2 separate regions of the Homo sapiens genome follow, and region 2 is linked to region 1. The links come from fine-mapping of genetic effects on gene expression. Tissue or cell type: visceral fat. Region 1 holds a variant in brackets; the other region holds the start of a gene. All regions are shown on one strand. Distances are between the middles of the regions.

The links. PIP is the estimated chance that this variant, and not a neighbour inherited with it, causes the effect.
Region 2: UBE2QL1 starts here. The variant in region 1 is fine-mapped to the expression of UBE2QL1 in visceral fat (GTEx, PIP 0.94).

The regions. Positions count from the first base shown.
Region 1 is chr5:6,521,217-6,523,846 of GRCh38, reverse strand. No RefSeq gene overlaps it. Among named protein-coding and RNA genes, the nearest start is that of LINC01018, 60 kb to the left of the region's middle. The variant T/G (reference allele first, on the strand shown) is at 1,385.
Region 2 is chr5:6,447,664-6,450,293 of GRCh38, reverse strand. It overlaps UBE2QL1 (ubiquitin conjugating enzyme E2 QL1), which reads right to left and starts at 1,435. Exons shown (of 2, transcript NM_001145161.3): 1 at 1,047-1,435. The coding sequence starts at 1,400. It overlaps LOC105374639 (a long non-coding RNA gene), which reads right to left and starts at 957. Exons shown (of 2, transcript XR_007058679.1): 1 at 1-957. RefSeq lists a silencer at 1,403-1,472.

The DNA.
Region 1 (2,630 bases):
AAACAAGATGTGGTCCATCCTCACATGAGAATATTATCCATTCTTAAAAAAGAAGAAAATACAGACACATGGTACAGGGGGTGAACTTCGAAGACATTGTGCTAAGTGAAATAAGCCAGTCACAAAAGGGCAAAGGCTGTGATTCCACTCCTGTGAGGTCCCCAGAGGAGTCACGATCTTAGAGACAGGAAGTGGAATGGGAAGTCTGGGAAGATGAAACATGTTCTGGAGCTGGATGGAGCTGATGGCCACGCAACAGCGTGACTGTGCTTGGTCCCCCTGAGCTGTATACTTCGCAATGGTTACCATAGCACATTTTATGTTATACATATTTTATTAGAATAAAAATACAATTTGAAATGGAGAAAAGAGGGTAAAAAAAGCACCAGACACTAATAAAAGCAAAAGAAAACTCAAACCCCCCCACCCGAATCTCACTTCAAAAGCCTGGTGGAAATGCTTTCTCTGGTTCCCCTTCTGCGAAGGGGACGAGGGCAAATCCACAGGGTCATGTAGCAAGGGTGTCAGGAGCAGCTTCCATGGGGCAGCAGCTGAGCCAAGGGCACGGGAGGCGCCCCCACCCGGGCCAGCGTGAGGGTCAGAGTCCTGCCCACAGGTTTGTGGGTGCAGCCACCAGCGCTGTCTAGAGCAGGCTGAGCCAAACGTCTAACTTGGGGCCACCCACAGCCTGAGGGCCAGGAAGTGCTGCCCTGAGAGGGACCCGCTGGAATGCTGGAAGGCGGTTCCCTGGCCATACTTTATTTCCTTCAGTTTCAAACACTCCCAAGTTCACCCCGACCTCCCATCCCTGCCTCAGCCTGTGTGGACTGCATGCATCCTCCCAAATTCATGTACTAAGGCCCCAACCCCCAGTGTGACTGTAGGCAGAGAGTTGGCCTTCATAGGGAGGTAATAGGGTGGGTCCCAGGTGCAGTAGGGCTGGGGTCCTTGTAGATGGAAGAGACATCAGAGCTCTCTCTCTCTGTCTCCCTCTCTGCCATGTGAGGACACAGGGAGAAGGAGGCTGTCTGCAAGCCAGAAAGAGCCCTCACCAGACACGCCCCTGCTGCCACCTTGTTCTGGGACCTCCAGCCTCCATCTCTGGAAAAATAACTGTCTGTTGGGTGCGCTGCCCGGCCCGAGGTACTCTGTCATGCAGCCCAGCAGACGAACACAGCGTTCCTTAGTGCTTTCTGGTTGAAAGCCACCGGCAAACCTGCACTGATTTTGGGGGAAGCACAAGCCCTGCCCGAAGGCTCGAACACCCTCCTGCGCTTCCGTTTGATCTTCACAGTCCCTGTTCTGACCTTGTGGGCCCTGCTGGGTGCAGGTCTAATTGCTGCCCAGACCTAGTGAACAGGTGGTGTGCTGCGGGCCCAGCCCG[T/G]GCACCCCCACAGAGCAGCCCTTGCCGTCCCCTTCGTTATCTTGCCATAAGGCTTGGCTCCTGCCTCGAAAATGCGTCCACAGCCTGTGATTAATCATCTTTCCCCTAACCCAATCATCTGTGAGCACAAAGCCCCCTCCCCTCATATTCTTTGGATGAGCCGAGACTCTGTAAATGGGTCTTGTATCTGAGAGACCTCCCTCTTTTGTCCCATCCCTATCCCCTATCCCCTGTGAGGTCTTCACCTCCCCACTACTGCTGAGCTGGCATCCTGCCCCTTGTCAGTACAGACCTCAGACCTACAACTGAAACCCCTCAGATCCCGAATTCTTTGCTGCCACAACTTGCTCGGGGGTTCCAGAGCCACCCCTGCTGGCCTGCGTGACTGCCTCTGCTGGGAGTCCTCTGAGCCTGGCTCAGCCTCTCTGTTTCTGCCCTGCGGACTCTGCTTTCCCTCCTTACAGACGTCCCTGCTGTTCCCAGCATGTCTCACACCTACATCCATCTGAACCGTTTCCCTCACTCCCCTGTATCTGGAGGTGAGTCCTTGGGGTGTGTGGGCTGTAGGGGAGGCATCTCACCACGAACTTGTCTCCTGTCCCCACAGATCCCTACAGATGGACAACGCCAGGGTACAGGAACCACCTCAAGCCCAGGGTCAGCCTCGGGCCTCAGCGCCACCATGCTTCTCTGGATTTGGGATCTAGTCTTCTTCTTCTTTTGAGGTTTTTCCTTATCTTTTTGTGAGCCTAATCACACATTTAAACAATAGGCCTTTCTAGATGCTTTGGAGCCTTTCCAGGCTTTGGAGAAGAGGGTTTCCAGCCTTTCTAGGTGCACTGGAGCAGCGGGTTTTCAGAATAACTCCCTGGATATTACAGCAGAGAAACATGGACCAGGAATTAAAATCAGTTCACTTCATGTGGTCCCAGTAGCAAATGCCAGCAACAGTACCTGCGGCTGCGCCACCCTGACCTACACGACAGGTGTCTGTGTTAGCTTTGGCAGCAGCTTGTCACTCTCTGATCCCAGAGCTGCATCTTCCCTGAATTATAGAAAAGGCCGCTTAACTTCTATTTGTGTAATCAGGATGCAGGAGTTTATGTTTATGTTGTTTAAACTTCACCTTGCTTGTTTTGGCCCAACATTTGCACCTGGCAAATTTGGTCTCTGAACCTTCATTCTGCAATATGTGGTGTTTGCCTCCCTCTAAACACAGATTGTCTGCAAACCTCATGAGAAGCCC
Region 2 (2,630 bases), 74 kb after region 1:
CCTTCGTTTCGTATTTCGTTAAAATCTTTAGCCCTGATAAAGGATTTAACTGCTTGGGGCAGTGAGGTAAGGGGATGAAGAAAAAGAAGCAGGTCTGAAAGAGACCAAGACCTGGAACGTCTACCCCAGAGGTGGTGGTCCTAAGGGGTTCGGGGAAGGAAGGGGGTGCTCTGAGGGGAAAACAGGCATTGCCGTGGGGGGGGGGGGTCTGGTCTTGTCTCTTAAGGGAATGCCCAAACCACACCGCCGCCTCTCTAGAGTGAGTTCCCAAGAGCAAAATTTCCACCTTTCCAGGAGAGGCAGCCCAGAAGAAGGCAGGGGGCGGATTTACAAGCAGGCAGCTGTCCCTCCCCACGGCACCCACCTGCAGATCTCCCACCCGAGTCCCCTGCGGAGGAGCCTTGTGTGTGTGTGTGTGGGGGGGGTTGGGGAGGTGGGAGATCAGCTAGGTTGGACACTTAAATCCTGAGGTCCAGAAAAAGTTCTCACCTTCATAGAGATTATAGGGACAGGAGATTGAGGAGCAGACAAGAGAGGGGCGAGAAAAGGTGAGACGGAGGGGAAAGAAGAGTAGGGGAGCCAGGGAGGGTGGAGAAGGAAAAAATGAAAAAGGAACGGGGGTGGGAATAGATGGGGGGACAGAGAAAGGGGTGAGAGGAGAAAGAGTCCAGGAGGAAAGGGAGAGGAGGGTATGGGAGAGGGAGGCTAAGGAAGAGGGATGGAAGAGAACTATGAAGGGATGAGGAGAGAATGAGCAAGCTAGAGAGACCAGAGAGACGGCAGAGACCGATACCAGAGAGACGGGCAGAGACTGAGACCAGACGGGGACGGGAGAGACGGGACGGAAAGCAGGGGCAGGAAGAAAACGCTCAGGGAAAAGAGGTGGAGGCGCTCGGAGCATCCCCGTGGGGCGCTGGTGTAGTCAGAGCAGGGAGCGAGATGGCCGGAGGGGCCGGCGCTGGCCCTCACCACGGGGCCCGGGCGCCCGGCGGCGCTGCAGACCCGATCTCGGCCCCGCGCCCCCAGCCCCGGCGCGCTCGCCTTACCTGGCCCTTGACCAGGCTGGCTGCGAACTGGCGCATGACGGCCTCCACGGTGTAGGCGCTGGACCAGCCGCGCGGCGTGAGCAGCTCCATGCAGATGGCGCCGCCGTCCAGCACGTAGCCGTTCTCCAGGCGCGGGCTGAGCACCCGCATGAAGGGCGGCGAGAAGGGGAAGTTGTCGGGGAAGGTGAGGTTGAGCAGGATGAACTCGGTGTTGGTCTCCTTCATGTCCTGCCACAGCACCGAGTCCTTGTCCACCTGGTGCAGCTTCACGTTCCAGTCGAACAGGCTCTCGTCCACCAGCTCCACGGAGATGAAGCGGTCGCTAAGGCGCGCGATGTCCTGCAGCTCCTTCATGAGCCGCCGGCTGCGCACCTGCGTGCAGTGTTGCTGGCGCGCCGCGGGGACCAGGCTGCCGCCCGCCGCCGCCGCCACCGCCGGGCCCGGCCCCGCCCTGGCGCCCGCTGCCCTCTCGCGGGGGCCCCCGGCCCCCGCCGCAGCCGCCGCCGCCGCCGCCGCAGCCGCCGGCGCCTTGTCGCGCGGGGCCAGCTCCGCCGCGCGCTTGCCCTTTCCCTTGCCGGGTCCCGGGCTGGCGTCGCCCGCGCCCCCGGGGTGCTGCTGCTGCTGCCACTGTGTGGTGTGTGTGTGCGAGCGTGGTGTGTGTGCATGTGATGTGTGAGTGTGGTGTGTGGTGTGTATGTATGTATGGTGTGAGTGTGGTGTGGTGTGTGTGTGAGTGTAGTGTGTGTAGTGTGTGGTGTTTGCATGGTGTGTGTGAGCATAGTGTATGAGTGTGTCGTGTGTGAATGTGTGATGTGTGTGTGGTGTGTGTGGGGTGTGAGTATGGTGTATGAGTGTGTGGTGTGTGTGCATGTGTGTGCTTGTGTGATGTGTGAATGTGTGATATGTGTGGTGTGTGTGTGGGGTGTGTGAGCGTGGTGTATGAGTGTGTGATATGTGTGTGCGTGTATGTGGTGTTAGTGTGTGAGTGTGTGGTGTGTGACTGGGATGTGGTGTGAGGGTGTGGTGTGTGTGTGCTGTGTATGTAATGTGTGTATGGTGTGTGTGAGAGTGATGTGTGAGTGTGTGAGGGTGTTTTGTGTGTGGTGTGAGGGTGATGTGTGTGGTGTGTGTGTGTGGTGTGTGTGTGGTGTGTGTGAGTAGTGTGTGTAATTGTGTGTAGTGTGTGGTGTGTGTGGTGTGTTGTGTGTGAGCGTGGTGTGTGTGCTTTGTGTGAATGTGTGGTGTCTGAGTGTGGTGTGTGGTGTGTGTGGTGTTTGCATGGTGTATGTGAGCATAGTGTATGAGTGTGTAGTGTGTGAATGTGTGGTGTGTGTGGTATGTGTCGTGTGTGTGGTGTATGAGTGTGTGGTGTGTGTGTAGTGTGTGTGCATGTGTGTGCTTGTGTGTGGTGTGTGAATGCATGATATGTGTGGTGTGTGTGGGGGTGTGTGAGCGTGGTGTATGAGTGTGTGGTGTGTGTGTAGTGTGTGCGTGTGTGTGGTGTTTGTGTGTGTGTGGTGTGTGACTGATGTGGTGTGTGTGTGGTGTGTTTGTGGTGTGTGTGTGAGGGTGTGTGTGGTGTAT